Linked DNA regions of Homo sapiens: regions 2 and 3 are each linked to region 1. The links come from fine-mapping of genetic effects on gene expression. A gene starts in region 1. Each other region holds a variant in brackets. All regions are shown on one strand. Distances are between the middles of the regions. Region 1 holds the start of ZNF423 (zinc finger protein 423). Region 2 overlaps ZNF423 (zinc finger protein 423). Region 3 overlaps ZNF423 (zinc finger protein 423).

Evidence for each region.
Region 2: its variant is fine-mapped to the expression of ZNF423 in sigmoid colon (GTEx, PIP above 0.99).
Region 3: its variant is fine-mapped to the expression of ZNF423 in testis (GTEx, PIP above 0.99).

The regions. Positions count from the first base shown.
Region 1 is chr16:49,852,680-49,860,854 of GRCh38, reverse strand. It overlaps ZNF423 (zinc finger protein 423), which reads left to right and starts at 4,743. Exons shown (of 8, transcript NM_001379286.1): 1 at 4,743-5,120. The coding sequence starts at 5,081. RefSeq lists a silencer at 5,240-5,499.
Region 2 is chr16:49,729,171-49,737,345 of GRCh38, reverse strand. ZNF423 (zinc finger protein 423) reads left to right here. Exons shown (of 8, transcript NM_001379286.1): 3 at 6,375-6,575. Among named protein-coding and RNA genes, the nearest start is that of ZNF423, 120 kb to the left of the region's middle. The variant C/T (reference allele first, on the strand shown) is at 4,485.
Region 3 is chr16:49,644,949-49,653,123 of GRCh38, reverse strand. All of the region lies in intron 3 of ZNF423 (zinc finger protein 423), which reads left to right. Among named protein-coding and RNA genes, the nearest start is that of LINC02179, 180 kb to the right of the region's middle. RefSeq lists an enhancer at 3,902-5,101. The variant G/A (reference allele first, on the strand shown) is at 3,906.

The DNA.
Region 1 (8,175 bases):
CAGGAACAAAGCAGTGAACTTATTCTCTGGGGAAAAGCTGAAGGGATAAATCATCCCTCCCCAAAATGACTGCTCCTCATAGGCTGATGCAAATTCTCCACAGTAGGGACTGGGAGTTTCAAGTAATAAAGCAGTAAACAAAAACCACTCATTCCAGATCGTATATATTCAAGTGACTGTTGTCATTTAAAGTAAGTGATGTGTGTGTGCCTGGAAGGGGAAAAGGTGGGCATTTGTTTTTTCTTTTTCTTTTCTTTTTTTTTTTTTTTGAGATGGAGTCTTACTTTGTCACCCAGGCTGGAGTGCAGTGGCATGATCTCAGCTCACTGCAACCTCGGCCTCCCAGGTTCAAGTGATTGTCATGCCTCAGTCTCTCGAGTAGCTGGGACTACAGGTATATGCCACCAAGGCACGTGCCACCATGCCCAGATAATTTTTGTATTTTTAGTAGAGACAGGGTTTCAACATGTTGCTGGGGCTGGTCTCGAACTCATGACCTCAGATGATCCACCCATCTCAGCCTCCCAAAGTGCTGGGATGACAGGCATAAGCCAGGGCCTCCCTAGCAGGTGATCCATCCGTTTCATCTTCCCAAAGCGCTGGGATTACAGGTGTGAGCCACGGCACCTGGCCAAGGTGGGCATTTGGTCACTTACTGGAAAGCATCCCTTGAGCAACTCTGGGAGCTCTGCAGGGATCATAGGTCTGAGGCCACAAAGTGAACACTGCCTTGTTTTCTTTATTGTCCTATCTTGTTTTTGTAGCCCACCAGACCCTCGTGCATTCACCAGACTGCTCAAAATGACGCCTGCCTCTTGAAAATTCAAGGAAGAAGCCTCAGTTGCTGCACATGTAGGAAAAACATTCTTAAGGAGCATGGTTGGGGAAGGCACCGCCTTGGGCAAGAGGTTTCCCCTCTTCCAGCCAAGTTATGACTTTGAAGGAAGATGCACCTTTTTGTGGGCAAAGTCTTACTTGTTCTCAAAAACCTCAACTTGGAATTTCTCTTGCATTTATGATGGTGGCTCCTGCTCCTTACAGCTTACAGTGGGTTTCCACAGCCACTCCTCCAAGCAGGGCAGGAGCAGCTGTTCACTTTCCGGCGAAGAAGGAGAGCCCAGAGGGGCCCCTTCTCATAGGGGAGGGGACTGGACCCCCTATTCCCTGCCAGAAGTAGGCAGGTGGGGGGTATAAAACACACCTGAAAATGACCCTTTCTGGTCCAAGGTCACCCGTGAGAAGCAAGGCCCAGGTGTCACCTGGTGTCCCTTGAGGCCCTTGCAGTCCGAGCTCAGAGGTGGGTGGGGATTGCAAATAAGGAAGGCACTATTGGCTTTTTGTTCCTTTGAGATTTTCCTTAAAACAACATTTTTCTGGAAGGAGTTAAAAATGAAACAAGCTTCAGAAGAAGCGGGACGGGCCGAGGCGGGGACAAGGTCGGGCTCCCTCTGCACCCTGACTGCCGCTGAGCTGGGAGACGCCGAACTTGGCGGGGGAGGGCGGAGCGTCGGGAAACGGACATACGTGCAGGCGACGCGTGGGAGGGGGCCCGGAAAACTTTGTGAGCGGCTCCAGGATCTCGTCCTTTCGGATTAGGTCAGGATGGGCTATTGCGGGCTCCCCATCCTGTTGCCCCCACCTCCGTCCTCAGTCTTCAGCAGGCCCCTAGGGGTGGAAAAGGGCAGCCCCGTGGGACTCCAACCACCCCTCTCCCCCGACGGCCCCTCTTTCGTCCCGCACACGCATTCCCCACCGCGCTCCTTTTGTCCGCCCCCTCACTCTCCAGACTCCCGGCTGGGCAGGATCCGCAATCTCCAGCCCCCCAGAAAGCCTGGGCGGGCGAGCTGGGGGCCGTTCCCCGCCCCCTACCTCTAGCAGAGGCAGCCCGCGGCGGGGGCACCCCAGAGCCGAGGCCAATCGTCCCCCTCCCCCAGCGTGTGCCATCTGCCGCCTGTCAGCCACTCTCCGCGGGCCTCGATCCCAGGCGCCGGCGGGGGTGGGGGAGCGGCTGATTCTGCCCCTCCTTCCTGGCTCCTTCCCAGGCGCCTCGCGGCCCCTGCCCTCGCCTCGGCCCTTGGCACCCCCGGTTCAGCCCAACTCCGTCCATCCCTGGGCCGCGGGGGCGTGGGGGGGGGGGCTCCTATTCCCTCCGGGAAGGCCGAGATGTTGGACACTCTTGGACGCACAAGCTGGGGAGGACTGTGGCCTGGGGATGGTAGCGCTAACCTGGGGAGGGGCGGCCCTCAAGGCTTAGGTCTAGTTAGGGGACGTCTCGGTCCTGGCCTCCGCCCCTCTGGGGAGCCTCGCTCGCCCGCTGCCGCTGTCAGGGTGTCCAGCTAGGCGTCGCGTTTAGCCCGTCACCCGACTCTACCTCTGAGACTGCCTAGGGCGCGCGCGCCTGGCCCCCCTGCCTCAGGCCTCTCCGCATCCTCCAGCTCGCGCTCCCCAGCCGCGGGGGTGCGTGGGTGGCATCTACCTCGGCAATCAGCCCAGCACGGGGTTGGCGAGCAGGGCCCGGCGGGACCGCGGAGAGAGCTGAGCGGGGCCGGGCCCGGCTGGCCGGCAGGCTGGGGAGCGGCGGGGCGCGGGCACCCTGCGTGGGGCGGGCGCCGCGGCCCGGCCGGCCCCGGCGCTGTTCTCGGCGGGCAGCGGGTTTTTCCGTGAAAGGTTGCCCTGGGTAACTCGTCTCCGAGGGGACGTAGCCCTCCCCTCTCCAAGTGGCAACTTATCGATCCGAGAGATTGATAACCCCCAGCGCCGCGCCGTGCACCCGCTCCGTTCTCCTGGCTCCGGGGCGCGCCGGCCCAAGGTGGCGCCACTCACCCGGGAGGGGGGCGAGGTCGGGGCCGCTCCCCACCCGAGACCTGGCCGCCTGCAGCTAGTTGGGGAGGGAGAGGCTCCGAGGAACGGTTTAGGGGAGCCGTCTGGGGAAGACTTTTCCCAAGTCAGAACCCTTCCCGGGCCTGCCCGGAGACCAGAGTCTCAGCCGGTTCAGGAGCTGCGGGGGACGCGCGGCGCCCCCTGGCGGCTGGGTAAAACCTCGCAGAAAGTAGCAGCTGGTTTATTTCTTCTGACAACTGCGCGGGGAGGGGGTGCTCCTGCAAGGTCTCAGGGGTAAGGTGTTCCTTTTACAGTCGGACAGAGGAAGTGCACACCAGGCGCGAGAATTCTACAAATAAGGGTGTAGGGGGCGCACGGGGTTAGCCCAGTGGTGGAAGAATTTGTTGGATGTGGGGCAGGGGTGGTCTTTGAACACCGACCGGTGGGCAAAAGCCAACCTGGCAGAGCCAGGTCCCTGGATAGTTCATGTGCGTGAGGCATACATCGCGAGGTGGCAATACTAGGGCAGCCCAACTCCGTTTGCTCCCCCATTCTTTCACTTTTTACAGTTTGTGAGGCTCATGCGTCTTGGCGAGCTTGACAGCCGCGTGGGCCCTAAGTGTGTTCCCTCCTCCTGCCCCCGGTGCAGCCAGCGCCCGAGCCCCGGCCCCGCGTGCTGGTGCGGTGCCCGCGCCCGCGCCGTGCCTGCCGCCGCCGCCGCCGCCGCCACCACGGTCCGGGTTTTGCGGGCGGCCGGAGCTGTATTTCCAGCGCTGTCCATCGCTCGGTGCTGTTGGCCCTCTCTCCGTCTGATCCGAGCCGGAGCAGTGCGGGGCGCCCCACGGGATCAGAGCGCTCCCCCGCCGGGACTCCGCTCCTCACATCCTCCTGCTGGGACCCGGCTACATTTCCAGCCAAGCCTGGCTTTATTATGTGTCTCTGCAGTGCAGCCCCAGCAGCCGGATCGGGAGGAGGAGAGCCAGCGACCACAAAGAAGACAGGAGCGCGAGGGAGGCTGGCGGGCGGGCCGGCGCCGGCTGGAGCGCGGAGGAGCCGGGGCGCAGCCGCCGCCGCCGCTGCCCAGGAGGACGGGAGCCCGGCCGCCGCCGCCGCCGCCTGCTCGTCCTCCTCTTCCGCCACCGCGGCCGCCGCCTCCCCCCTCTCCGAGCCCCTGGCCCATGGAGGCAGCTAGCGGGGCCGGCGACTTGGCACCGGCCTGGGGATCGGCTGCGCGCCTCGCGCTGAGCACCGCAGCCCGAGGGCAGGCAGCGGCGGCCCGGCGCACGGGCTGAGCGATGCCCGGGGCACGGGCGCGCCTGCCGGCCGCCGCCTGAGCGCCCCCGCGCGCCCCTTCCTCCTCCGGGGGGCCGGCGCCGGGCCGATCCGAGAGCCAGAGAAGGGGGCGTGAGCCAGGGGCCCCGAGCCGCGGCTTCCGAGCCACTGCGGCCGTTTCGAGCCTCCCCTCCAAGTAGGCTGAGTTGAGGGACCCCCGCCCCCCATCCATCATAATCTCCAAACCAGGCGCTTGGGCATTTTTGAGCCATTAATATTTATTATTTTTTTTTGTGCGGCAGGGGATAATTCGAAGGCTTCTTTTTTTTTTTTTTCCTGGGGGGTACTGAGCTTCCGCGCTCCCGACCGCCTCCCGGTCTCCTCCCCCCTTGAGATACCCTCGACTCCAGCCCCGTTCCCCCTCCTCAGATGGGTTCATTGTGAGCTCCGCACCGGGCTGCGTGGCCGGACGCCTGCAAACTTTGCACAAAAATCCGGCAAGGGGCGGAGGAGGAGGAGAAGGAGGAGGAGGGTGAGGGTGGCGGTAGGGTGGGGGAGGGAAGGAGGGGGCCGCAGGGGCCGGGGGCCGGCGGGGGGTTGGGAGGAGGAGGGGGGCGGCTTTTTTTTTTTTTTTTTTTTTTTTTTTTTTGCATAACTCGGCTCGGCCGAGTGGCCTCCGGACTCCCCGCGCCGCTGGGACCGCCGCTTGGATCGGGAGCCCCGGACTGCCGCATTGCAACAGGCAGGGCCCCGGCGCGCCCCCCGGGCCTCCCCCCGCCTTCGAGCGGCCTCGGCCGGCCCGGGCTGCCCCCCCAAGGGAGGCCGCCCCGGACCTGCGGTCCGCTCCCCACAGCCGCCAACCGGGCTGCAAAAAAAAAAGTTTCCAAGAGACAGGCGGAGGAGAAGGGGGAGAAGGGCTGCCCGGAGCGGCGGGGGGCGGCGGGGGGAGCCGGCTGCGGAGGGCGACGGAGCGCCCGGAGCCCCGGACATGTCCAGGCGGAAGCAGGCGAAGCCGCGCTCGGTGAAAGGTGAGCGAGCGAGGCCCGGCGGAGGCGCGAGCGAGCGAGCGAGGAGGGAGGGAGCGAGGGAGGAGGGACCGGCGAGCGGGCTGGCTGCCGGGGACCCGCGCGAGCGAGCCGAGAGGAGGAGGAGGAGGCGGCAGAGGAGGCGGAGGCGGAGGCGGAGGCGGAGGAGGGGGAGGAGGAAGCCGGGAGCAGGAGGCGGAGGCGGCGGCGGCGGCGGCGGCGGCGGAGGGGGTACGCCGCGGACACCCTCCCTGCCCGGACTCGGCGCCGTCGCCCTTGGGGGACCCAGGCCTGGGGGCGCCGCTAAGGGGCCCTTGCCGCTCCCTCCGTGCGGGGCCCGGGCCCGTGTGGCCAATCAAGGGGTGCTGGCCCGACTTGGCGGGGATTGCGAATCTCGGCGGCGGCGGGCGGGCGACAGGAGGAAGGAAGAGGCGGCGAGGACGGGCGCCCGGCAGGCCGACCGCTCCTCGCTGGCCCCGGGCCTCGCTGGCTCTCTCTGGCCCCTGCCTGGTCGCCCGAGGACGCGGGGAGCGGCGGGCGCTGTCGGCGAGCGCCCCGGGCGCCGCGCCCTCGCCCCGGCCGCCTGGCGCCCCCTCCCGCCCCTGCCCAGGCCTTCTCCCGGCCCGGGCCCCTGCACTTCCTGCCTCCTCCACCGAGGCCCACCGGGCAGGGAGCCTCCGCCAGGAGTTCATTGTCTGCACGGCGCCGGCGGGACGCAGGTCCTCAGGGGAGCTCAGCGGCCGCGGTGCGCGCCCCTCCGCGGAGGGCGCCCCGGATCTGACCCCGGGCACCGGCACCCTGGATCTGACCCCGGGCACCGGCACCCTCGACACCCAGGCCGGCTTTCTGTGCTGGCTCCCCGGGGTGCGCGCGTTTGTGGGGAGCTGCAGATATATAGATACACACACCCATCCCTTCGTCTCCACGCTTTGCTTTCTATTTCCAGCGAGGGCCCCCAGCTCGAGGGGACCCCTGGAGAGTAGAGGCCCCGGGGAAAGGCCGCGCGCCGGCAGCAGAGCCCCTCCCCTGGCCTCCTCTCCCCGCGGCTGGCCTTTCCAGGCCTTGCCTGCTGCTTTGTCCCGATTCTAGCCCCTCGGTTGGGTGCCCGGGCGCTCGGCTGTGAGATGGGAGATGATCGAGGAAGGGGGGAACGATGAGAGCGGCTAAGTCTACGGAGCCAAAAGCCCCCAGGCCCTTGTCTTCTCCCATCTCCCCTGATGACCTCTGGCCTGAGCCCAGTTCTGCTCTGAAAAGTTCATTTCCTGGAGGCCTGCGCGGGAAGGCGCTGGGGCCCCGCTCCCTTCCTGCCAGCCTTGCGCCTGGCTGGAATGGCTGGAACTGAATCTGGCAAGGAGGATCTTGAGACACTCGTCAGTTCTGTCCTCCTGAAGTCCCCGGAGGGACTGCCCCCGGCCCAGCAGAGATCCTCCCCGTCATATTAGAAGGAGACCAACTGAGTCCAAACGGAGCGCCCGGCCCGTTCCTACTCCTCCTTTTCCCTGAGAGAAGTTGGTCTTGTTCGCCTCACCCTGGCTGGTCTCCCAATCCGGGACAGCCTGGCCTGCTCCACAGAACTGGGGGTTCAGAGGGTGTTCTGATTGGGGGACAGGGAAACCAGAAGAGAGACTCCAAGAAGAGGACGGGAAAGAAGGGTGGATGTTTCTCTTTTGCTGATGGAAGGGCTGTACGGCTTGAAATAATACTGGATTTCTTTTCTCTTTCCCTGGCTCACTGCTCACTCCTTCAGGAGCCACTTAAGAGGCGACCCAGAAGAAAATGTGGAATTGGAATTTCTGGTTGGAAAAACAGTTTTATTTAACTCAGGCAGTTGATTTTGAGTTTGCAAAGCTTGCTTACCTAGACTTCCAATCCACTTCTCCAAACCTCCTTACGTTAGACGGCGAGACCCAGAAAGCAAAAGGAGAGCAGTTTGCAGTGAACAGATGGGTGGGTGTTTCAAAGTTGCTTGAACCGAGTTCTAAAACCACTCTGTGGATCTCTGAGAAGGACTCAAGAATTGGTCTTCAGCCTTTCATGAAATGAGCCTTGAAATGATTTTTAGTGAGTGCCTCTCTCAAATGTGTATGTGTGTATGTGTAGCAGACAGTTCAAGCAGGTTGGTAGGAGAAAGGCAGCAAGGTGAACAGGAGACCAGTGGAGGCATTTCGAGACTCGGTGTTGTAAATATCAGCCACACAGAGCCTTTCTGTCCGCAGAGTCAGAGACCCCCTGATTCTTCCCATGGCTTTTTGCATTTTCCAAAAGCAGCTACAACCCTTGTCTCTCACCATTTTACCTTTTATTCTGTTTACTGGGGTGAAGAGGGTGGAGATGTGGCCACTTATCAAGGGAGGAATTAAGAGAGAAGATAATTTGGATAGATAAGAGTTCCAGCAGGTGAGGGATTTATTGCTTTTCAAGAACTGCTCCCCCCCCGCCCCGCCCCTTCTCTTAAGCAATATTCAAAAGTGTGTGCTTGAGTGTGGACAGCTCCACACCAAGTGTTTGAAACGACAAGGTCTTCACCTTTAAAGATGCTTGAAAGTGCTTCTTAAGGAACAGCGGTGTCTTTTACATTTTATTTTATTTTATTTTGCCTCCACTGCTGTGTGTCAGGGCTAATGTAGAGGCTTTGTGGACTTCCCCGGCCCCGAGCATTCTGCTGTGAAAGTCGCTTGACTGTAATTTGTAGTTGATCTCGGAAATGTGAAAGTCCATAGCAGGAAGGAAAGACAGAAATACAACAATTTCGAATGGATGCTCAGAAAGTGTGATTTGAAAGCACAGGCATTGCTGCTTTGAAAATAAAACTGGCCTCTGGGGGCTGGGGTGGTCTCACTTCCCACTCACGGACACAACCTCCCTTCTGGAGTGGGGTCCCTTGTCCCCGCAGTGTGTTTGTCCTTCTTTGGAAAACCCAGCTCACAGGGAGGACACCTAGTAAATAGGGAAGGGGGTTGGGGCACTAGGGGAGGGGGGAGAATAGCCTCATTGGTTTTCAGAAGCCTTGTAATTTTATTTAAAAAAAAACAACCCTAAAGCCGGGAGTGTTATAAAA
Region 2 (8,175 bases), 120 kb after region 1:
GTGAGCTGAGATTGCACCATTGCACTCCAGCCTGGGTGACAGAGTGAAACTCTGTCTTGGAAAAAAAAAAAAGAGTCAGGATCTAGAGTCAGAAGACCTGGATACAAATTCCTCTCTGCCCTTCCTGGCACGTGCTTTGAATGGGCTCCTGAGCCTTGTTTTTTTTTTTTCCTCATTGACAAAGTGGGTGAGTCCATTGCACCTACCTGCAGAATGGGGATATCCATTGTACCTACCACATAGAGTTTCTGTCCTCATCGAAATGGGGCAGTGTGAGTGTAAAATGGTACCAGGAGATGCTCACACCATACTCAGCTCCCCTCAGGGTGTAGGGGAGGCTGTGCCACCTCCCTCTGTCCCTGGCAAGGCCCTCTGTCCCTGGCAAGGCCTCTGCTGCTCCTTCCCTCTAGAGGGCATGGGGCCATCTGTCTTGCTGCACAGCGTTTCTGCAGGGTCCGCTGTCTGCTCTCAACGTCATCATCTTGAATGCAAGCCCTTTCTTAAGGGCAGTAGCTCAGTGAGGTGGGAAAATTCACTACTTTTACTTTATTTTTTGAGACTCTTGCTCTGTTATCCAGGCTGGAGTGCAGTGGTGCGAACACGGCTCACTGCAGCCTCCAACTCCTGGGCTGAAACGATCCTCCTGCTTCAGCCTCTCAAGTAGCTAGGACCACAGGCGTGCACCACCATGCCTGGCTGATTTTTAAAATTTTTGTAAAGATGGGGTCTCACTGTGTTGCCTGGGCTGGTCTCAAACTCCATAGGTTCTCCTGTCTCATCCTCCTAAAGTGCTAGGATTACAGGCGTAAGCCATTGTGACTGGCCTGAAAATTCAGTGCTTTCCAGCGAAACATGATTGAGGTGAAAGGTTTTGTTATTGCCTCTCTTTGCTCATAGAATGTCCCCCAAGTCCATATCTTGGGTTCAGGGAAGCTGGGTTTGGGTGGGTGTGGTGTAGTGGGGTTTCCTGGTGTGGGTGTACCCTCTTCCTCCTGGCTGCAGGAAGAAGCTGGCAGGACAGGGCAACCTCGTCATATGTGAGGCTGAGCCATTTGAGATTGCCAATATTCAACTTTTTTGACCTAAAAAATGGCACCTTTATATGATTCAATCTAATACTTATCGTCAGACAATAAACTGCACTGTGGCCCCTTCCCCTCCTTCTGCCTCTACCTGTGTGGGGATTCAGAGGCCTGCTTTTTTGAAACCAATCAATTAATTCACTCATCCATTCATTCAACATTTATTGAGCCCCTACTATATGTCCCTCTGTATGCCAGGGTTGGGGGAGGTGGCACTGAGCTAAATTAGACACAGCTCCTGCCCTCATGGAGCTTATAGTCCGGTGTGGGGCGAGAAGGTCGGCTATCCATTGCTACGTAACAAACCATCCCAAAATGTAATGGCCTGAAGCAATAATTTATTACTACTTCTCACAGTACTATGAGCTAACTGGGTTCAGCTGGCAGTCTCACTGGGTGTTTCTTGTACAGTTGCAGCCGCATGGTGTTTGGAGCTGCTGTCATCCAAAGGCTTCTTGGGGTGGGATGTCCAAGATGGTGTGCTCCCATGGCTGAAGTCGGTGCTGGAAGCTGGGAGCTGTTGACTGGAGCCCCTATGTGCTCTCTCTCCATGTGGCTTGGGCTTCATATATTATGGCTGCTGGGCTTGAAGGGGGAGTGTCCCAGGAGATGCAGGGGGAAGCTGCAAGCCTCCTTCTGACCTAGCCTCAGAAGTCTAGAATAGCACTTCTGTTGCATCCTGTTGGTCAAGGAGCCACTGAGTCTGGCCAGCCCCGAGGGGGACTGTGGAGGAGAATTCGGTCCCTCGTTATGATGAGGGAGTCAAGGTCTCCCTGCAGAAGGGCAGGTGGGGTGGGAGATATTGCTGTGGCAGTCTGTGGAAAATGCAGCCTGCCAAGGGAGAGAGAAAGTAGACAAATTAGCCCACAAAAGCATGAGTGCACGTGATGCTGAGAGCTCTGACTGCAAAGGGAAGAGAGCCCTGGGGAAAGAGTAATGGGGCCCCAACTTCCGTAGGTGCCCAGGCTGGTGGAGATCTTTGGGAACTGTGTGAAGACTTAACGGAAATCTTCCTGCTGGAGATCAGGAGTGGGAAGCCCTGGACCAAAGAGACTTGGAAGTTTATGGGGTTGAAAGATGACCTTCAAGGCTGTGGAGATGGGCGATAAGTGAGAGAGATCAGCAGAGCCGTTGCTGAACCTTAGGGGCTGTGACCAGGACCCTACATGGGACTTTGAGGGGTTTTACAAACTCCCAACACCTGGCTCAGGTGTTCATTGCGTCTTACTGTGAGGAAACCATGTAGTAGAGTGGTTAAGAGTCACATGCAGTGGGCTTGAAACTCAGCCCCACCACTTCTCTGTGGCCTCACTTAAGCTCTGTCACTTCCCAGAGCTCTGCTTTCCTCACCTGTAAAATGGGGATATGATGACATCAACTCATAAGGTGCCTGCACTTGATTAAGCATTGAGTGCTTAATCAATGCTCACTGTTCTTGGGGCATGCCTGGGCAAAAGGATGCAGGTGTGCACATCAGAAAACAGTTGTCCATCGTGGAAAGCATGAGCTCTGGGAGGTAGGGAATCTTGTCAGCTGGACGGACAGGTCGGCGTTCACAGCACTGGTTCGGTTTCTGTCCCATGCACATGGCCCTGAGGGAGAGGTCCCTGATTTGAAATCCATTTGGCTCGGGCCTTCCCTGAGCGAGCTGTCTTCATGCTGCTGCAGACAGCCCCCAGGAGGACAGGGGAGGAGCCAGAGGGAAAGGAGCCAGCCGGCTGTTTTCGGGAAGCCCTCCCCAGCCCTGGAGGCCTCTGCAGAAAAGCATTGAGCCATTGGCCTTCTCCTCGGCCTGTTGAAGTTGCTTCACTGGGCTCTGGGGTGATTGGAGGAACCAGTGAGCTGCAGTTCTAGCCCAGGTCATTGAAATGAGCCAGCGCTTGTGATGGGACTCACAAGGCAGGGCCAGGTGCTGGGCCTCTGGGCCCTATGTTCTCTGAGTTTGCACAGGTGATGTCCAGACTCAGGACAGGGACCAGTTGAGGGGCCTCTGGGGCTGGACAGAGCAGCACACAGGACAGGCGGAGCTGGGTTGAAGGAGTAGGGAAGGTCCAATCATTCCATCCCCAGGACTTACTGAGCAACCGATCAGGTGGGCCTGGAAAAGAGGAACCCCAGACGGTCTCCAGGTAGGTCTGATGTCCTTGGAGCTCCCTGTTGTTAGAACTTCTGCCTCCTGGGCCTTGGAGAGCTTGGGGCTCCAACAGGCCCAGGGACTTCAGGAAAGGTGTGCTGCTTAATGAACACGTGAACGTGTAGATTCGATCCTGGCATGGCTTTGGGTGGCCTTGCAGAGGCTCAGTTTTCTCATCTGCAAATGGAAAAATAACACCATTTATTCTTTTGTCTTATGGTGAGGTTCAGAAACTCCTGGGCATGAAAGTGCATTGCAAGAGGCAAACCCTGCCTGGGGTGGAGGCCTTCCTGTTCTCCAGCGCCTGATTCTGCTGAATCAGCAGAGGGGCCCTTGGGTCTTCAGGGAAGTCCCACTCCCCAAAACTTCTTCAGGCCCCTGAGTCTTCCCTGTCTTGTGTCACCTCCCTGAGGGCCAGGCTGGGACCCCTTGGGAGCCCAGAGGATGAGGTCCGCGCCTTTGTGTGGCCTGAGCTCGCCTTCGTCTCCATCCCTTTCTGCACAGCCACCCTCCCTTCCCATTAGTAGCCGGCCATAGGGGAGGTGACAGTTGCTTAAAACAGATTTATACTCTTGGATGACTTTATGGGTTTTTGCCTTATAAAAACCTGAGAGTTGACATTCTGATTTATCTACTCCCGAGTCAACAGGATGTACCAGATTTAAAGAGATCAAATACATTGTGATGTTTGTGGTTCCAGTTGTGGATTAGATGAGCTATTATAGAAAGTGCTGCCAAGTAAATACGGCAAAAAAATAACGAGGGGATAATTTAAATATGTCTATTAAATTGTGTGTTAAGTAAAGTAGCACAAGTGTGGTGCTGATTGTAACTTATTATCTGGAGGGTCGGTGTAGTAGATAAAGCCAGAATTATGGCTCTTTTATTTTCCCTTTCTACAGAACATTTTTTTTTTATTAAGGAAAGACTGTAAACGAGGAATTTCGGAGACGGGCACTTGACTGTGTAACCATGGTTGTATGATGACTTACAATATCGAAGGCTCCAAATGATATTTCTCATTTCTTTGCTTTCTATTTCTTACCCTCACTGCAGCGGCAGATCAGATTCCCTGAGATAAATATGCTGCCTGACTTTTAATGGGATTTCTGTATTGCCAGGAGTTGGCGCGTTCTGATAATAAAAGAACCTAAAAACTGTACATCCCTTAATTGGTAAGAAGAGAGATGTTTTGATGGGCCACAAATGGAAACATTGATTTTTACTGCCTCCGCGCAGTTCCAGGCGGCGTGTCGTGCAACGTTCCC[C/T]GCCTTGGAAGGAAGCAGCTGGCTCTCCGATGAGCCGATTTGTGTTCCCAGGTTCTTGATGTCGGGTGCTTGGAAGGGCATGTTCTGTGCAGACAGGAGAAATAGAGCCCTTATAACATTATCTGTTTCCAAATTGAAATATTCACAGGACTGTGGTTTCCACCTTGAATTGAGTGCATTCTTTGCTTCGTGTCTGTCTTTCTTGCTTTGGCGCCCGCCCTCAGGGGTTTGCAGGTTGTGCACTGAGCCTTTTCCTGTAACTGTGATGTTGCATGTACACACATGTACATACAGGTGCACATACACGCACTTTTGCATATGTACATATGCTTTCAAAAACACCTTTATGGATAATAAGATCTCTTTCTTTGATTTAAATCAGTGCAGCTAGTTTCCGGATGGGTAAATCTGTTTTCCAGGACAGGCTGTGGGAAGAGACAACACACACTTTTATTTTCCAATCCGAGGGTCTCTGCATTTTAACACACAAATTTTATCCATTGACATTTATTAGGATTACTGATATATTCTGTGGGTTATATTTACCACACGCTTTTGCACTTTGATTTACAAGTTCCTGGTGTGTCTTATTAATCTGTAAGATTGGGGCTGTGCTCCATTACCCACAGTTGTGCAGGGAAGTGAACTAGACCAGGAGTCACGAAGTTGAGCTGAGCCTCTGTAGGGTGCTTGGGCTGTTGCTTCTTCTGGTTGGATGCCAGGTACCTTACCTGTGAGACAAAGCTGTCCCTCTCTGCAGGGGGTTGGATCACATGATCCTTTGAGCCTTCTTTGAGTTTAGGATATGCAAGACTGTGAAATGGGGCTGTGCATATATAATGGTGGCTTTGAAGAAGCACGGAACACAGCACAATTGCAAGGCATCATTATGATTACGAATTCACTTTTCCCTATAGATTAGCCACTCTCTGCACAGTGCTAAGCACAGTAGCTGTTTTATTTTAAAGAAATCAGTGAGATCATTCCACGACTGATTCTAACTGTCTAGGCCTGTACCAGGTCACAGGTGACACTATTTATTTTATTTTATATTTTTTAGAGATAGGGTCCAGGCCCAGGCTGGAGTACAGTGGCACGATCATAGTTCCCCGTAACCTCGAACTCCTGGTCTCTAGCAATCCTCCTGAGTAGGTAGAACTACAGGCACACACCACTATACCAGGCTAATTAAAAAAAAATTTTTTTTTTTTTGTAGAGATAGAGTCTTGCTATATTGCCCAGGCCGGTCTCAAACTCCAGGCCTTCAGCAATTTTCCCACCTTGGTCTCTCAGAGTGCTAGGATTATAGGTGTGAGATTCCATGCCCAGCCTGGATGCATTTTAAGCTTGAGATTCGACCATCCATGGTTCTTCAAACATGTGTACTTCCTTTATTTCAGAGTTGGACATCTTTGCAAAGAACTGAGCCAACGTCACTGCCCTGGGAGGCCTGTTGTGTGGAAGGCGAACTTGGCTAAGAGATCTCCCAGCTCTAAATTGCAAGGCTGTGGGGAAAACTAAAAGTTTAGGTGTGTTAGGAACAGCTGATGGAGGCTTTAAAAAGGTGTGTAACTGAATCTGGTTTTTAGGAGACAAATAAGGTTTTTCACCTCTCCGATGGGTCACGGCCCCCAGCATCCGTGCACAGAGGGGAGATGACAGGAAATCCCCCTAGAAGATTTGCACCAAGAATTAAAGAATCTGGTTGAGAATTATGGCACCACATGCTACAAAAAAACCCCATCTATTAATATACTGAGAGGTGTCAAGGATAATGGACCCCGGGAGGTAGAGTAATTAAATGTATCTTAATAAATGCCGGGCGATTCTTTTAAAACCCTTTCCCAAGACCCCATCAGCTGACATGGACTGTATTCTTCCTGTTGGCAGGAGGCCTAGAAGGAGAGCCAGAGTGCGATCAGAAAACCAGCCGTGCGCTGGAAGACAGGAACAGCGTGACAAGTCAAGAGGAGAGAAATGAGGATGATGAAGACATGGAGGATGAATCAATTTACACCTGCGATCACTGTCAGCAGGACTTCGAGTCTCTGGCAGACCTGACGGACCACCGGGCCCACCGCTGTCCTGGAGGTAATGCAAAACAGCCCCAGGACTCTGACAGGTGGTTACACGGGTAATTGGACATAGCAACAGCTTGAAGCCTCAAGTGAGATTAAAGAATTAATAATGTAATTTTACAGTTAATGTCATTTTATTGTGGTGTCTTGGGTACCCTGTATCCGCCTTTTAAATACAATTAAAAATAAAAGCAACAGCTTTCCGGCAGGCAGGAATTAGATGGTGGTGCTCTGTCCCGGCCCCCTCTCCCCGCAAGCTGTGCTCTGGTACTCAGGCCATGAATGGGTGGATGTGCACCCTGAATTTCTGGAAGGCCTTTTGGAAACGCAGTAATTAAGAGGTTGTTAGTGCAAAGTTAAGCAGCTTAAGTGTGGAAAGCTGCATAAAGGAGTAAGCTCCGAGGCAGAGCTTCTGATGGGATGAGGAAATTTCAAAGGCCAAGGACAGCCCGTGAAAAAGGGACCTGTTTCCAACTCTGTGCTTGACCTCACACTTCTCTGAGTAGGAGGAGAAGGGTAGCTGGGAGCTGCTTCTGCTAGATTTGACTGGAGCTCTGTTCTCCATTTACTTGGTGCCTTGGAGAGGGTGTGTAAGACCAGTTTTCTAGGAGCTACTGAAGACTTCAGGAGTTTTGTGTGTATATGTGTATTTGTCTGGGGTGATTGGGGTGGGGAGTCAGAGGGCATGTGCATTCCCTGGGATGTGGAAGCCATGCTACAGGGATGACACATTTCTGGGCTCTGAGATCTGCAGAGGGAGTCCATAGGACCTGTGTTCCTTACACAGTCTTCCTGAGAGACCTTCTTCCATCAGGGTTGTTGATGAAGCTCCTTGGATACTGGTTTGTGGAAGAAAGCCTGAAATCTCAGGCCTGCATTCTAAAGGGAACCCATCACTTGTTGAGGGGAACATTTACTGGTAGGGATTAGATTGGCACCCAAAGCTCTTGCTTTTTCTACTCCTCATATCATCTTGGAATTTTGAAATTAAGTGTTTGGGGAACTGCTATGATTTGCCCTCTAGTGACATCTGTGCCTGCACAGGGCTGGCTAGACCAAGTTCCCATTCTCAACCTCTGGAGGAACAGATATTTTTAAAATAATAATAATAATAATAATAATAATAATAATAATAATAATAATAGACCTAAGAGGAATCTTACAGTTTTGGACATTTTGGGGCCCAGTAATCCAAACCCCAGTCATTTGGAATTTGTGATATTGCAACCAGAGGCAGAGGTGATGGTTAATTTTCAATTCTAAATCAGAATTAGAAGGGACCTATGAGGTTAGCTTTTTAAGTCTCCTCACTTCCCCAAGGGAAATACTAGGGCAAAGGGAGGAAAAGGTGATTGCTTGGCCGGGGTCACATATCTGTTTGGTGGCCAAGCTAGGACCTCCTCTGGACACTGAGCTATTGACCCTCATCCTACTTGAGGAATAATATTATAGATGTTGGTATATTTCTTGATTTAGCCAAGAATTAACATGGAATCTTAACTATAAGAGAATAAAATATTGCCACTTACTTTATAATCAACTAATTGATCTAATGAAAAGTTATTCTCTTTATTTTCTAAATGCAAGAGAATAGGCCATTCTGTGTAGTTGTT
Region 3 (8,175 bases), 210 kb after region 1:
AGCCCTGCCTGGAGAATCCAATGCCGCGTTAAATATGTGGATTATCCAAAAATTTCTGCAGCAATAGGGTGAGTTATTATTGATTCACAGAGCACGACAAAACATCACTGCATGAATTAGCAAACAGCTGTTTCTAATTTGAGTTTAGAACGGTACACAGAGGAACTTGTTTCTCTGTTCACTCCTTTCATTTATAATGAATTTTAATCACTGCTACAGGTGAGAAAAATGTAGAAACAAGCTTGTATCTTGTGGAAGAAACAAAGGAGAGGCAGATGCTAACAGATTTCCAGTCTGTGATAAAAGGGATGTTTTGGTACACTTTACATGTAATTAGAGCGCAGCTGTTTCCAGTCCCAGGTCCACGAACACGGCCGAATGTGGGCTCTGCCGATCTCCAAAGGGAGTCAAGAAAAACAGTGATTCAACCCCGAAAGCATTTTGCTTTCACTCGAGTGGAGCAGAGCGCCCTTTGCTCAGGCCCTTGGCGGTGTTGCTTCATGAAGCTCACGGAGATGACTTCACAAGGCGCCAACTCCTTGTGAAGAGGCGGGCAGGCGATGTCAGGGTGCGCAGGAGGTCCACGCCAGGAGGCTGGCAGGAGAACCTTCCGGAGCTCCTGAGCTCCTCGTGCCCCTGGGGAGTCCCTTGTAGGGGCAGACTTGGGGGGCTCTTCCTTGCTGGCAGGAGTTGATCACTAGGCTCCTCTTTAGCAAGTTTGATCACAGCCAGCTCTCGGGTGAGCTGATGAGCACTGGCTTTTTTTTTTTCCCCTTTCCTAGTCTGTTTAATTTCTGCAATAAAACTCGAGCTCAATTGCATTTTCAATATCAGTGCTAAGTAAATTTGTCTAAGGGATGGAGCTGCCTGGCAGGCTGTGTGTTCTGCGAGGTCAGAGGCTTCAAGGGGAAAGGTGGACGCGTCCTTGCCCTGCATGTCCAGCAGCCATGTGGGGGCGGGGGAGGGAGTGTTCTGGGAGTCTGAGCCTCATCCCCCACCCCCTCCACCATGAGCTGAGGGACCCACATCCAAGCCATGGATGGCTCCCAGTACCTTAGATTCTCTGTTTGTGTAATGAGAGCGTTGGGCTCCATCTGTATAATGAGGGGTCTTGAAGCTCCTTTCAGGGCTGATGTCCTGGGATTGTAAATGGCAGGGGCCCTCTGAGAATTTTGGCAGGTTGAGTTTGCTTTGTTTGAAAACCATCTTGTGCACGGGTAACTGTAGGTTTAGCTTAGACCCTGTTGGTTATCAATCAGGGCTCAGGGAGGTGACACTGTGTCTTGTGTCCCCTCAAACCATTCCAGCCATTGCCAGCCTCTCCTTGTCCTGTGACCACCTTATGGTGATTTGGGAGCCAGTAGCCAGTGACTATTTTAGGCATTATAGAACATTTGTCATATATAACGCCTTACAGATATTCACTGATTTCATCTTTAAAACAACTCTATAGTTGGGTCTATAAATAGTCATCCCCATTTTACAGATGTGAAAACTGAGACAGGTTTCTCCATCTGTAAAATTGAGCAAGGGTCATTCACTTGGCTAAGGTCACACACATAGTAAGTGGGGGAGCTGGGAGTCTAAGCCCTGCTGCCGGCTCTCAGCCACCAGGCAAACACAGATGTCTCCAAGGCCCGGGACACCCCCTAATGGTGAGGGAAGTCCTGGGGTGCTGGGCATGCAGGGGGGTGGGGGTCCCTCCTCCAAGAAGCCCCAGCTGAGCTCCATCTTCCACATGCCAGATGCAGAGTCTGTGCTCCCAGGCCTTCTTCTCCTTCAAGAAAAACCGTAAGTGGGCCAGGCGTGGTGGCTTATGACTGTAATCCCAGTGCTTTGGGAGGCTGAGGCAGGAGGATCCCTTGAGGCCAGGAGTTTGAGACCAGCCTGTGCAACATAGAGAGACCCTGTCTCTACAAAAAAAAAAAAATTAAAATTAGCCAGGCATGGTGGCACGCACCTGTGGTCCCAGCTACTTGGGAAGCTGAGGCAGGAGGATCGCTTGAGCCCAGGAGGTTGAGTCTGCAGTGAGCCATGATTGCATCACTGCACTACAGCCTAGGTGACAGAGGGAGACCCTGTCTCTAAGAAAAAAGAAAAAAAAAAAGCCAAAAGTGACTGTGAATTAAGGAACAACAACAACAAAAAGTTGGGAATTCTTGATTTGTAAATGTTGGCATTTTCACAAAATCACTAATACTGATAACTGGGTGGCCCCCAGACTGTCCAGTGGGAGGACAGCCATGATGACCTATGACCCATTGCTCAGGGCATCATTTCTCCCAGTCCAGCTGGCTAAGAGCCCTGGGTTGGAAGTTCAGGCCTAGCTCTTCCAGTCACTTTGTGATGTCAGGATGTGACCTAACCTCTCTGTTCTTTTTCCTCATTACTGGGGTGACCACACAACTTACTGTGTAAGCTCAGCTGTTTATGAGGGTGAGAGGGATTCACTAACTGAATGGGATGCTGGGTTCCATCCCAGGATGCCTGGGTGTGTGGCCCCCCACTTACTCGTAATATGGGGATAATAACAATAACAAAACCACCATGACCACCACCACTGCACAGAGTTGCTCCAGATGTCAAATGGATAATGGGTGTGAGGTGCTGCGCAAAATGTTAAATGCCCTGTAGATTATGGGATTTACGATGAATGATAATAGTGTCAGTTACATTAGGAACCCCTTTATCTTATTTAGCCAATGTTCATCCAATGTTTAGCAGTATGTAAACATTAACCACTTTGTAAGGTAGTTACTTTTAGTTTCCCCAGGACATGGGCACTCAGAGAGGGGCAGTAATTTTCCCATGGTCTCACAGCTAATGATGGCTGAGCAAGCCAGTGCACACTCTTACTCATGGCTCTGCTGTCCCTCAGGGCTGACGTCTCCCTGCAATTGACTGAGTTTCTTCAAGCTTAGCAGCCTAAGCTAAGTTTTGAGTCCCTGGAAGTTTTGTTAAGGGCCTTGGTGGCAGCTGTTCACTGTCACATGGCATTTCAGCAGCCCCCAGAGCTGGCTGGAGAAGGGCAGGCCTGGTCAGTCTCTGTCTTTGAGATGTCCAGTGACCTCTGAGTCTTTTTTCTCCCAAACCGAAGGAATGATCCCTACTTTTCCTTGCTTATACTTTGGGGATGATGAGATCCCATTCGTAAGAAACTCTCAGCTCCCTGGAGGAGGAATGAGTGAATAGGTGCTGCTATTATTTTTGCTAATAGCATAATTCTAACTCGAGATTTCAGGAAGAGCCATGTCAGCTTCTGGTCACCTTTGTGGAGCTCCTTGGCTTACCTCTGAGGAAAGAACCTCCAATAGCCTCATCCCTTTCCTTTCCCAGGGTGGACTTTTGATGTCCCAGGGGTCAAACTTAATCCTTTACACTTCTCCTGTCAGATATCTAGGTGCAGTACTGATGTTACAATTGAAGGGATTCTCTCTCTCTCTCTCTCTCTCCCTGTGTGTGTGTGTGTGTGTGTGTGTGTGTGTACTTCAAAGCAGTAAAGGGTTTCTTTAGTGTTTAATGTTTAAACAGTAATTAATTGACACGGAGATTGGACAGATAAGAGCATAGAAACCTAAGAATGCTGGGTACCTCTACACCCTTTGGAAAACTGGATATTTAGAGCAGGCATCCTAAATATGTGCTGAATTAAAAAACCACCCGAACTAGGAGATAGTAGAGAGCTGGGATACCTACCACCTGAGACTTACTCTGTACCCAGGGCAGGCACAGACATCATTAAGTGATAACAGACTGTAAGAGCTACAAAGCCTCTTAGAGACCTGTTCGTCGGATTCTCTCTATCAAGAGATGGGGAAATGAAAGCACAAAGAGGGGATATGCTTGCCCATGGTTACACAGTTCTGGAATCTGAACCTGGTCCAGTAGTGATCTCATCCACTATG[G/A]CTCATGGCTCCACCCTCTGGGCTTGAGGTTCTGCCCGCTTAGTCATCCCTTTTTTCCCCATGAAAGGTAGCATGTACTTTCATCTGAGTAGTTTTATTAACCTGTTTCCTGCTTGTGAAGTTTTGGGTGTCCAACAGACTTCTTTCATCCTGTACTCTCTCTGTCCTTTTTGGTTTAAGCTGGCAGTGTTTCTGTCAGTATAAACTTTTCAAGAACCTTGTGAGTCTCCTGTGTATGTCATGGGTATTTTCTCCATTATTCAAGATGGTCCTCTACAGATATTTCCTGGATAATCCCTTCTCTACTTTTGTCTTTTGCTGAGATTGCTCCAGAGCAATACCCCCAAATTTCCTAGATGCTCTCTAATTTGATCTAGGAGATCTGTGAGTCACACCCTTAATCTCACCAAAGAGCCTTTGTTGTGACTGAATACTCAATACTCTGGCATTTTGATTTTCCTGAGATATTAGCAATATGTGCAGTCCTACCTTCAGCTTTTTCTCCGGAGCATGCTTTCTTGTAAGTAAATCTCTTAGAGTTTTTTTTTTCTTTTTTCTTTTTTTTTTGAGATGGAGTCTTGCTCTGTCACCCAGGCTGGAGTGCAGTGGCATGATCTTGGCTCACCACAACCTCCACCTTCTGGGTTCAAGCGATTCTCCTGCCTCAGCCTCCTGAATAGCTGGGAGTACCTGGAATTACAGGCATGTGCCACCATGCCCAGCTAATTTTTGTATTTTTAGTAGAGACGGGGTTTCTCCATGTTGGTCAGGCTGGTCTCGAACTCCCGACCTCAGGTGATCCGCCTGCCTCAGCCTCCCAAAGTGCTGGGATTACAGGCGTGAGCACTGCGCCTGGCCTGCTTAACAGTTCTTTTCTTAATCTTTTTTCTTTTTAGCAGCAAGAAGAAACCAGCCCATACCTTCCACAGTTTGCTTGGAAATCTACTTAGCTAAGTATCCAAGTTTATCCATGAAAGTTCTGCTTCCCACATAACTGTGAGTCATAATTTCACTTAGCTTTCTGCCACCAAGTATCAAGGATCCCCCTTCCTTCAGTTTCACTGTCAGTGCCTTTATTAATATCCATATTTCTCTTAATAGTCTGTTCATGATGATTTAGATATTTCCTAAAGTGATTTAGGTTTTCTCTGATGTGTTCCTTACTTTCTTCTGAGTCTTTATTAACAGAGTCATTAATATCTATGTTTCCATTAATCTGTTCAAGGTTACCTAGGCTTTTAAATAAATCATACTCCTCAAAATTCTTCTACCCTCTGATCGCTGCCCAATTCCAGAGCCACTTCCATGATTTTAGGTATTTGTTCTCATAGCACCCCACTCCTGGTACCAAAATCTGTATTAGTTTGCTATTACTGCTGTAACAAATTACCATAAGCACAGTGGCTTAAAACAACAAACAAAAAATAGTATCTTAGAGTTCTGTAGGTCAGAAGTCTGACCCAGATGTCACTGGGTTAAAATTAAGGTGTTGGCAGGGCCGCATTCCTTTCTGGATGCTCTTAGGGAAAAATCCATTTCCTTGCCTTTCCAGTTCTTAGAGGCTGCTCACATTTCTTGGCATATGGCCTCCTTCCATCTTCAATACTAGTAATTGCTGGTTGGGTCCTTCTCATATTGCATCACCTCAACCTCCTCTTCTGCCTCCCTCCTGCACATTTAAGGACCCTTGTGATTACAACAGACCCATGTGGATAATCCAGGATAATCTCTTTATTTTAAGGTCAGCCAATTGTCAACCTTAATTCCATTTTACCATGTAACGTAACATATTCATATGTTTTGGAAGTTAAGACTTGGACATCTTTGGGGTAATTATTATTCTGCCTACCACAATCTCCAGGTTTGCTTCTGCATAGGCTATTTAAGCAGCAGGCTACTTTACCTGCCATCCAGTGAGGAAAGAGGCCAGCAACATTCATTAGTGCTTGGCATCAGACCCAGCCTAGCCTGGTCATCCACCACTGACTTTGCCTCAATGGCAGGTGGGGTTGTAAAGCTTAAGACCTGTACCTGGTTCAAGTCACGGGGCCTGGTACTGTGCTTGTGCATGGTGGACCTCAAGAAAGAGGGAGCAGGTCCAGCAGGGATATGGGCCTTGGACTGGCTCCAGGGCCTGGTGAAGCAGTGTAGCCTGGTGGTTAGTAAGTGGGTGGGGGCATCTGCCACTTGCAATGTCTGTGCGCTCAGAAGTTACTTTCCTTCTTGGAGTGTCACTTTGCACAGTTATAAAAAGGGGTTGTTAATAGTACCTACCTCATAGGGAATGTGTGAGAATCAATTGAGAAAAAGCTGGCAAAGGACCTGGCACATAGAAAATGTGTCATACAGCTGGGCGTGGTGGCTCACGCCTGTGATCCCAGCACTTTGGGAGGCCAAGGCAGGTGGATCGCAAGGTCAGGAGTTCAAGACCAGCCTGACTAAGATGGTGAAACCTTGTCTCTACTAAAAATACAAATATTAGCCGGGTGTGGTGGTGGGTGCCTGTAATCCCAGCTACTCAGGATTCCTACCGAGGCAGAGAATTGCTTGAACCCAGGAGGCAGAGGTGGCAGGAAGCCAAGATCGTGCCACTGCACTCCAGCCTGGGTGACAGAGCGAGACTCCTTCTCAAAAAAAAAAAAAAGAAAAAGAAAAGAAAATGTGCCATAAACAGTAACCACTGGATCTGCCTGTGACTTGTCATGTTGCCTCAGTTTCTCCATCAGTGAAATAAGATGAGGGAGGAGCTATGCACCCTCTCTTGCCCTCAATACACTGATGCTAGTTTTACAGGCAGGGATGTAATTGAGTTGAGGAGTATTCTGGGATGGATGGCTAGTTCTGGCATCAGGTGTGTGCAAGTACCCCTGGTTTCCCAAGAAGTGATCAGGAATATGCCCAGATGCCCCTTGAGCTCAATTTGGATCATTTCGTGTCTGGAAAGCCACCTGCTTAGGCTCTGGCTACCTCTGTGGGAACCACAATCTACAGTGTGCCCTGAAGCATATTCAGGTCTTGCAGCTCTTATTACCCCAGGCTCTAGGAAACACTGACTGGCTCTCCTCGGTTGTCCGGGCTGCTTTGTGTCCACTTTGGGCAATCCTCACCATCAGCTGATGTCACAGCTGACCTATCTGGCTGGAGATTCCTCTCCAGACTCCAACACAGTTCTACAGTATATTAGTTCATTCTCATGCTGCTGTGAATAAATACCCAAGACTGGGTAATTTATGAAGGAAAGAGGTTTAATTGACTCACAGTTGTGCATGGCTGGGAAGGCCTCAGGAAACTAACAATCATGTTGGAAGGGGAAACAAACATGTCCTTCTTCACATGGTGGCAGGAAGGAGAAGAATGAGAGCTGAGCAAAGAGGGAAGCCCCTTAATACAACCATCAGATCTCATGAGAACTTACTCACTATCGCTAGAATAGCATGGGGGAAACCACCCCCATGATTCAGTTACCTCCCACCAGGTCCCTCCCACCACAAGTGGGGATTATGGGAACTACAATTCAAGATGAGATTTGGGTGAGGACACAGCCAAACCATATCATACGGTATCTGTCAGGGCCTCTTGTCTCTCTGTGACCAACAGGATTTTGGGAACACCAAAGCCTCATCTCTCAAAGAGAATGGACAGCTCCTTTTTTGGAAGAGGAAACCTGAAAAGCATCTAGCATTGGGAGTCAGGAGACTCCTCTTTCCAGTTTGCTCAGTGCCCTTTGACTATTCCATTCCTACATGTCTCTGCTCATGGCAGACATCATCAGTTGATTGCAGCACTCATTTCTTTGGACCTGAGATAAGGCCTTGGAATCCTTCTGAACACAGGATTCTAGGCAACCACTACCAATTAGCTGGGCTTGTAAGTTTTCTTCTCTTTTCTGGGCCTCAGCTTTTCCATCTGTATCATGTGGGATTGGGTAGTTGGTTCCTGAGTCTAGGGTCCCATTCCTCTGAGCTTAGGGAAGGGCCACAGTGATTCCTATTCTTGGAGCTCTGTATGGGGGCAGCAGAGAAGCTCTGCTTGGTGTATTACAAAGCTTTGTCCTGTCGGGAACTGGTCTCCTTGGCAATTTTCATTTTTCTGAAGAAACAGTTGAGTGGCAAGGAGTCTTTTTGGGGACTTTGTGAAGCACTGTAAGGCCATTTTGTGTCTATCATGAAGATGGTCTTGATGGTTGGAGTATTGTACAAGGTGATCTTTATATTCATATGGCAGGGGCTATAGAGAGCATGAATTCCAGCTTCCCATGAGCCAGCAGAGG